Linked DNA regions of Homo sapiens: region 2 is reported to be linked to region 1. The links are microRNA targets in miRTarBase. Many come from high-throughput screens and were not tested one by one. Region 1 holds a microRNA gene; the other region holds the end of a gene's coding sequence.
The links. The annotated mature microRNA hsa-miR-301b-3p reads CAGUGCAAUGAUAUUGUCAAAGC and lies in region 1 at 2,115-2,137, opposite strand. An mRNA with a match to its seed (bases 2 to 7 or 8) in the 3' UTR can be bound and repressed. Matches are read on the target gene's strand: a 7mer-m8 pairs with bases 2 to 8, a 7mer-A1 pairs with bases 2 to 7 and ends in A, and an 8mer does both.

Region 2: miRTarBase lists CYB5D1 as a target of hsa-miR-301b-3p. The part of its 3' UTR that is shown has no 7-base or 8-base seed match.

Annotation. Positions count from the first base shown.
Region 1 is chr22:21,650,778-21,655,161 of GRCh38, reverse strand. It overlaps MIR301B (microRNA 301b), which reads right to left and starts at 2,181; the gene lies at 2,104-2,181. MIR130B (microRNA 130b) reads right to left here and starts at 1,858; the gene lies at 1,777-1,858. It also overlaps the pseudogene LOC107985532. RefSeq lists enhancers at 2,468-2,517, 2,054-2,725, 2,726-3,396.
Region 2 is chr17:7,858,877-7,863,260 of GRCh38, forward strand. CYB5D1 (cytochrome b5 domain containing 1) reads left to right here. Exons shown (of 4, transcript NM_144607.6): 4 at 506-3,406. The coding sequence ends at 736. It also overlaps a transcript of NAA38 not described here. Among named protein-coding and RNA genes, the nearest start is that of CYB5D1, 3.1 kb to the left of the region's middle. RefSeq lists an enhancer at 1-104.

The DNA.
Region 1 (4,384 bases):
GCGTGAGCCACTGCGCCCAGCCTAATTTTGTATATTTAGTAGAGATGGGGTTTCTCCATGTTGGTCAGGCTGGTCTCAAACTCCCGAACTTAGGTGATCCACCTGCCTCGGCCTCCCAAAGTGCTGGGATTACAGGCATGAGCCACTGCGCCTGGCCAGAGATTTTTTAAATGACAGTTGTCTCTGCCTCAGGGGCTCCCAGTCTAATGGACACTTCTGCCACAGGGAGAACATTTTGATTTAGGCCGGGTGCGGTGGCTCATGCCTGTAATCCCAGCACTTTGGGAGGCCCAGAAGGGCAGATCATGAGGTCAGGAGTTCGAGACTAGCCTGGCCAACATAGTGAATCCCCGTTTCTACTAAAAATACAAAAATTACTGGGTGTGGTAGCACCTGTAGTCCCAGCTATTCGGGAGGCCGAGGCAGGAGAATCGCTTAAACCCGGGAGGCGGAGTTTGCAGTGAGCCAAGATCGTGCCACTGCACTCCAGCCTGGGCGACAGAGCAAGACTCCATCTAAAAAAAAAAAAATTTGATTTAACAAGCTGTTCTGGAGGAATATTCAATGCTGTGAAGCCCAGAGAAGGCTTCCATTGGGAGGGAGCCAGTGAGCAGAGCCCTGAGTTCAGTCTCCCCGCAGCAAGAGCAGGAGACAGCTGCATGGGGGTCTCCAGCCAGTGGGTACAGAATCTGTACAGGACTGAGGGGTGGCCACCTCCAGCCATGGCCCCTGGTGCCTAGAGGAAGGGAGGATGGATCTAAGTCAGATGACCCTAGGATCAAGGAACCCCAAGGGATCAGGACTAGGAAGCCAAGGAGCATGTGTCATTGCCCCTGTTCCTCCCACGGGTGCCAGGGCTTCTCTCCCCAGGGTAGGGGTAAAGCAGTTTCCCAATGCGCCCAGCTAGGGATGAGGGGAACTCCCAAAAGCCCATCTGGAAACCTAGTCCTCCTCTAAAGAAGATTTGAATGACTGTGACTGGGCACGTAGAAACCTTTTGCACCGTGTCAGGTCTTGATGGTAGAGGTGGTCATCCAAGCATGCCTGGGGTCAGGCTCCTTGGAAGTTCAGCTCCAACCCTGTATTCCAGCTGGGACGGTTGGAATGTTAGACACCTCAGTCCCTCCTGCAGGTTCAGGGCACACCTCTCTGTAAGAGAACAAACTGGCATGGTTGGTAGACATCATTTGCAGGCTTTGTATCCCAAGTCCACCCATCCATCTCACATAGTACCACTCCAGCTGAGTCCACTCAACTGATCAGTCAACTGGTCAGTCCATAGTACCACTCCAGCTGACGTCCTGGGGTGAAGGCTGCCTCCTGAAAGGCCTGCCTTACCCCCTTACCCAACTGCCACCCAGAAGAACATTCTCTCCAGAGCCTGGCCCTGTTCAAGCTTCCAGCAAGGACTGGGCCCAAGCCAGGCCTAGAATGATCTTCCATGCAAAAGACTGGGCGTGTATTTCCCCTAAGACCCTGACCAGGCCTGGAGTTCCAGTCTTACCCCAGGGACCCAATGTGGAAAGACCTTCAAACAAGAGCTTTTCAGAAGCTGGGGAGGTCTGCTCCTGCACCTGTCCAGCCATGACAGGATGGAGAGTTTAGGGATGATTCTCCAGCTCTGCACCCACCTGATCCTCTGATGGAGGGTCCAGTCCAGCTTCACATCTGTGCCTAATCAGTGGAAACACTTACCCTCTGGGCACCTCAACCTTCTCAACTGGAAAGTGGAGTGAGGCAGCAAGCTCCCTTTCCCCCTCCCAGGGTAGCAGGCTGGACCTGACCGATGCCCTTTCATCATTGCACTGCTTCCCAGCGGCCTATAGTAGTGCAACAGGGAAAGAGTGTCGGGCAGGCCTGCCAGTGCCTCCCCCAGGGTGGTCTGCAGGGATCTGAGACCTGGAATGCAGGCTGGCTGGGGCGGGGCCTCTGCCCGGGGGGAAAGGGTGCCCTCTGACCCCAGAGGCCCAGGCCTGTCTAGAATCTCAAGTTTCCATGGAGAAGGGAGCGAATTGGGTAGGGGGGAGGGGAGGGCCTGCAAGCCCAAGGGGCCCTGCCTGGGGAGTGGGAGGTGAGGGTTATAGGGAGGGAGATCCCCAAGGCTGGTCCCAGATGCTTTGACAATATCATTGCACTGCTTCTCAGAGCACAGTAGTGCAACCTCGTCAGAGCACCTGCGGCCAGCAGGGGGGACCCCACCACCCCCAATACACGCAGGGCGGGAAGCTCAACCATGGATGGGTGGGTGGGGCAGAGCCCCCGTCCAGTCCATCCGGGCAGGGAAGGAGACCGCAGCGGGGTGCGTCCCTGGGGTCTTCAGAACCCAGGACACCCAGGCCTTTCCCAGAACGCTCCGGATTGAGGTGGAGGAGAAACCCCAGACTAGGGGGTTGTTCCAATCCCGGAGCAGGAGCTGACGGGCCACGCAGGGGAGGGGGCGCACACACAAAGACGAACCCGCACTCAGCCGCAGTCCAAAGCCGGCTAGCGCCCGGAGCGGGGTGGGTACAGCCCGACGACCCTGCGCCCTGACTCGGCCCGCGGCTCCAGGAGAAAAAGGGCGGCCCCACCCCGGGACGACGCGCCCCTTCTAGCTGACGACTCCATCCCTGGCCCCTTGCCCTGCACTAGATACACTCTGGATTCTTTTCTAACATATTCTTCTGCCTGGAGGCCCAGAGTGGAGCAGAGGATGGGGGCTCCCCGCCCTTCTAGAGTTCCCTGCTCCAAAGAGGGCCCCCGGGATCCCGGCCGCGCCCCTCCGCCTGACCCGCCGAGTAGGGCCGCCCAGCCCAGCCCAGGATCCCCTCCTCAGACACAGCTGACTCACGCAGACATCCCTTCCGCCCAGGGCCCGGTCAGGACGCGGAGGGTTAGACGGAAGAGGATCCCGGCCATCGTCTGCCCCCGGGTCCCCGTCCAGACGACCCTGCACCTCGTGGCGGCCCCTCGCCTGCCGGCTCCATCTTTAACCCGCTGACAGTCGGAGGGGCCGGGCCCCCGACTCCTTAGCATAGCGCTGCGCTCATTGGCCGGCGCTGGCGCGGGGATTCGCCTCCTGCATGCCTGTTGGCTGAGACGGGAGAGATTTCAAAATAGCCTCCGGGTTCCGATTGGCCCGGCGCCGGCCGAGTCTCGGGCTCCGTGGTTTTAACAATGAGTTCTACAAACACTTTTTCCCCATTCATAACTTATCAAAAGGAACTTTGCCCGCCTTTTCTCAGCTCCAATCTCTGCGAGTTTTCTAGCGACACCGACAAGAGCGCTTGGAAGCCCGGTGAGGGGCGCCAGGCGCGAGCCCACAGTGGGGGAGGCCGAGACCCTGTGGAAATTCCCGAACCCCCGCCAAGCCTGCTGTGAACGCGGCCGCGGGCTGCTTTGTTATGCATGCTGAGGTTGCTCTCTGCGCCTCCTGGATGGGATATTTGGACGTGGTGGGCTTACAAACTGGGGTAGCCCCCCTCCCAACTCAACCACCCCGGATCGCCCGGCAGGACGCGAGTGAGGCTTTCCTGAAAACCCCCGGGTATGGCTGGGCTATGGAGACCGGGTCCTGGGCCCCGTGGTCTTTTGGATCTGTGGGAGATATGGGGAACGGAAGTGTAAGCTTTGGTTTCTTCGTGATTGTGATCCACTTTGCGGAGAAGCATTCATTAAGCGCCTACCCTTCGCTGATGACTAGGAAGTATATTGATCACCGGGCTGTTGAACGGCTCCTAGAGGGAAGGGAGGAGCTGTGCTTAGACAACTGTGCCCCTGCAACCCCTCCTGCTTTATTATCGGTCCAATGGCTGAGAGCAAATGTTTTTGAGGCAGGCAGAGGTGGTTTTGAATCTTTATGAACCCCTGTTGCCTTCTTGCAAAATTGAGATGGCAATCAAACCTGCCCCATAGGGCTGGCTGTTGCCAGCAGCAAATGAGATGCTGTGTAAATTGTTGGCCCAGCACCTGGCATTTAGTAAGTGTTCACTGAAAGTGAGTTCTGCTGCCACTACAGTTTTTATTTTTGGCCTTGTCCTGCATTCTGCCTGGAACAATCTTATCTGCTCCCACAGCATGGGCTTTGGTTGCCCAGGGATTCCCACTTGTGCACTGTTGGGTTCCTCTTGGTCAACACTCCTCACCTCACTGCTTACCTATGTGTGGTAACGGAGGTGGGGGAATAGACAGAGAGGGAGGAGTGGGCTTTGACAGCCCATAGGAGCTGGGGCTGGACCAGAGGAGTGCCCCCTTGGATTTGCAGGGTGATATGGTTTGGCTCTGTGTCCCCAGCCTAATCTCATCTAGAATTGTAATCCCCAAGTGTCAAGGGAGGGACCTGGTGGGAGGTGATTGGATCATGGGGGCACTTTCCCCCATGCTGTTCTCGTAATAGTGAAGGAGT
Region 2 (4,384 bases), not on the chromosome of region 1:
TCTCCAGGCCGATCTTCAGGGCAACATTTTTTCCATAACCGGTGGGAGTGTATTTTCTGTCCTTTACATTGAGGCAACTGAGGAAAGCACAGCACCTAGGTCCCCAGGGTTGGGAATTCTAGGAGTGTCTGGGTCACAGGGGGACAAGAGACTCCTTTATAAGCCTGGGAACAGCAGTTCATGTATCTTAGTGATGGTGGTCCTTCGAAGCTCTTACACGCCGTTTTGGACAGCAATTGGACTTTCTTTTTAATCTACTCTGTTGCATGGATATAGTGAGGGGACAGTTGACCCTTTATGGCCATCCGGTAGTTAGAAGTGGCTGCCATTAAGATCTGTAGGACTTTAGGGTCTGCTCATTGCATGCTGGAGTTTCAGCTTTTTTTTCCCGGGGCCGTAGAGTACCTGAAGCTGCTATCTGCCAAGGGAGGCACTTTGATCCCAGCGTGTGTATATGTATACTCCATCCAGAATTCTGGGGGTGGGGTGCTTCTGTGTTCTCCAGGTGGGGGTTCTGGAGTCCATATGGGAAATCCTACACCGCTATCTCCCCTATAACTCACATGCTGCCAGCTACACGTGGAAATATGAAGGGAAGAACCTGAACATGGATTTTACCCTGGAAGAGAATGGGATCCGGGATGAGGAGGAAGAATTTGACTATCTCAGTATGGACGGTACACTTCACACACCTGCAATACTTCTGTACTTCAATGATGATCTCACGGAGTTGTAGGCAAGGAGATGTACACTCGTGTAGACTCAAGACGTATTTCGAGTTTGGCTTTTTCTGTGCCTTGAGGAAAAGTGGTGGGGCCGAGGGGTGCCTGGACCCAGATCTCCACTCCTCTCCAGGAGCTAGCCTGTGCCCTTCTGAAGTGTAAAGGCCCTATTCCCTGCCTTCATTACAGTTTGCTCTGAGAAAATTAGTGAATTAATCTTTGGGAATGATACAAGAAGATCAAGTACCTTGGTTTAGGGAGATGTAGAAGAGGATAGTCAGAGTTCAGGCAGAACTGTTTGATAGTTAAGAGAGAGTAGTTCTACAGGGGTGAGGGATGGAAGGACTTTTTTGGCAATGATGGAAATGAGATGTCTGCAGGAAGATGGGATTTACAAAGAAATAGGAAATGTTTATCATTGACCATACAAAGCTGGCTTATCTTACTTGTAGAAGAGTGTTTGGCAGCTGAAACCCAAGGGAAAGAAAGGAAGTGCGTCATTATAGGCAATTCAGGCTAGATATTATACTAGGTACTTCATATACCCTCTTTTTTTTTTTTGCCCCCAACAAAGAGAAGGGGTCTTGCTCTGTCACCCAGTCTGGAGTGCAGTGGCAAAATCATGGCTCACTGCAGCCTGGAGCTCCTGGGCACAAGTGATCCTCCCATCTCTGCCTTGAGTAGCTGGGACTTCAGGTGCACGCCACAATGCCTAATTTTTTAATTTTTTGTAGACACAGGGTCTCGCTGTGTTGCCCAGGCTGGTTTCAACCTCCTGGCCTCAAGTGATCCTCTTGCCTCAGCCTCCCAAATAGCCTCTTCAAGACAACTACCCCATAAGGTGGATTACCATTACTATGTTACAGATAAGTCCTTCGAAACTTTGGAAAGTTTAATAGCTCAAAGCCACACTAGGTAGTAACCACTAGAGCCAGAATGCAAATTCAAGTCTGCCCAACTCCAAAGTCCATGTTCTCTCAATATAAAGGGACCATCTCAATGTCTAATCTCATGTTAACATTTGTAGCCACTGCTCTCAGCAAGTATTTGGGATGTGGCTTTGTCCTAGGATCCCTGCACAATAGGAAATTGTGGTCCTATTGTATAGTTTGCAGTTATTGTCTCTGGAAGGGAGTTTGCAGAGTTCTCCTGTGGCGAAGAGGAGGCAAGGAAGGCTAAGTGTCAGTTAAGCAATAGCTATTGGGGCTACTTCTTTGTTAATCCCATACCCCAGATTTCTCTCCTGACCTTTTGGGGCAAAGAGGTGGGTATTTACTAACTTGAAGGAAAACTAGAGTGGGGAAAAGGCCGGCAAATTAGTGACACTTTGGCGAGGGAGAAAAAGGAGGCAGTTTGCCACTTGGAGAAGATGAGGAAGACAGGGTTGCAAGACGGTGACTCCAAAAGAGGGAGCTCGACAGGGGTAATGTAAACAGAGATGCTAACTAAGTCAGAAAACTCTCCTGGTGACCAAAAGAGAACCACTATTGGGGGTAATGGCTAGATTTGGTCTCCTTTAACTTAAGGAGGGGAGATTTGAGAATGACAGACAGTTGAACTTCCTGGCAGCAGCAAGCAAAAAACAAATCAGGAAGAGTTTAGTGTGTCTTCTGGCAGGGGACACCAGGGCCCAGCACAGGAGAAGGTGGCCCCTGTGAGATACTGGTGGGCTATATAGGCATTTTCTGAGGGGCTTTGGGAGGCATGAACAAAGGTGGAAACATTGCTGTTGGCTTCGGCAGTATCTGAATTTACTGTGAGATGGAGGGTTTAAATCTAACCCCATGGAATGCAGGAGTCCATGAATTATCTAAATCGATCATTTTGATCTTTAATCAACTCTGCAATTATGTGTACCTTGTTTGCTCAATTAAACCCTGAACTATTTGAGAATGAAAGCTATGCTGTTCCTCTAGTGCAAGCCTCAGGGCCTGTCCTGTGCCTACAGGATGTCCCCATTCTGCCAAAACCTGTCCCTCTTCCAGAGACTCCTACTTCAATGTCTCTTGCTAGAAACACATCCCTTTCCTCACACATCCAGTCACTCATCAAGTGTAATCTGTCTCCTAAATATCTCTGGAACCTATCTTCTTTTCTCCAAGTTACCATCACCTCTTGTCTAAACTGCTACGGAAACTTCCTAACCTGTTCTCCCATTTCCACTTCTGACTTCCATGCTGCAATGAGAGTCAGCTATGAAAAACAAACCTAAACATCGAACTTTCCTTAGCTTCTTCAGTGGCTTCCAACTGCTTTTGGAATAAAGTCCTAAATTCAAAGATCTTGTATAAATCAGGCTCATCTCGCAACACCCCTCTTTGTTCTCTATGGCCTAGACACACTGGCTTTCAGTTCATTACATGTCTTGCCTCAGACCCTCACACACTGTCCTCTCTGCCTGCAACACTCTTCCTTTCACTTTCCACCTAGCTGATCCTAAATGTTCCTTCCTCAGGGAGGTCTTTTCTGATTTCTTGGTGGGTCAAGACTTTCTGATAAATCAGTTAGCACCATGCATTTTCCAGAGTTTTTATTACAATTGTAAAATTATGGCTGTAATAGGCTGGCTGCGCTGCTAGATTGTAAGCTCACGAGGGCAGAGATCTTGTTCACATCTTGCTCACTGCTATATTCTCATTGCTGAGCACACAGTTGCAGCTCAATAAATTTTGAATGAACTCCAATGTTAAGTGAACTCATCCGTCTATACCTAGTGGGGGGGATGTTGTGTCCTAGTAGGCAAGGAAGGACCAAGAAATAGGATGTCTGGTTCCTGTGCTATAGTCTCTATCCATAGGATTCACTTTCCTTGCTTCCCCAATATCCAAAACCAAAAGTTATTCCATAGAGGGTCTCTGGCCAGGTGCAGTGACTCACGCCTGTAATCCCAGAACTTTGGGAGGCCGAGGCATGGGGATCACCTGAGGTCAGGAGTTCAAGACCAGCCTGGCCAACCTGGCAAAAGCCTGTTTCTACTAAAAATCCAAAAAATTAGCCGGGCGTGGTGGCACACACCTATAATCCCAGCTACTTGGGAGGCTGAGGCAGGAGAATCGCTTGAACCCGGGAGATGGAGGTTGCATTGAGCTGAGATAGTGCCATTGCACTCCAGCCTGGGCAACAAGAACGAAACTCCATCTAAAAAAAAAAAAAAAAAAGTTAAAAAAAAAAAAGAGGGTCTCACCAGATTTTTGGGGGCCAATCCATCTGTCATTTCCCCATATGGCCACCAGGTGGCTGTAATTACCTATAGAGTCAGGGAGACAAGCCTGGAGGGAAAACCCTTCCAAAGTTAGGATGGGAAGGTGGCCTTTGGAGATTTATAAGGGGGAGGGAAGGACAAGAAAACAAGGAAAAACCACATGGCCACCGTTCTATTAGCATTAGGTTTATGCCTGCTTTTTTTTCTCTCACAAGCACATGGCAGGAAAGGAGTGCAGTTAGGAATTCATGGGCTAGAACAAAAAGGAGGTCCTGATTACAGGTATGGGAGTGTATGGGGCAAAGTATGGAGCTGACAAAGGGATAAAGACATCACAAATTTTTAAAATAATAGAATGCATTCACTTATTAATACTTAAAAAAAATCTTTCCAGTAGGCACTGCTTTGTTCTCTAAATAGCCAAGTGGATATTTGCATGAGGAGTATGTAAATAATGCTT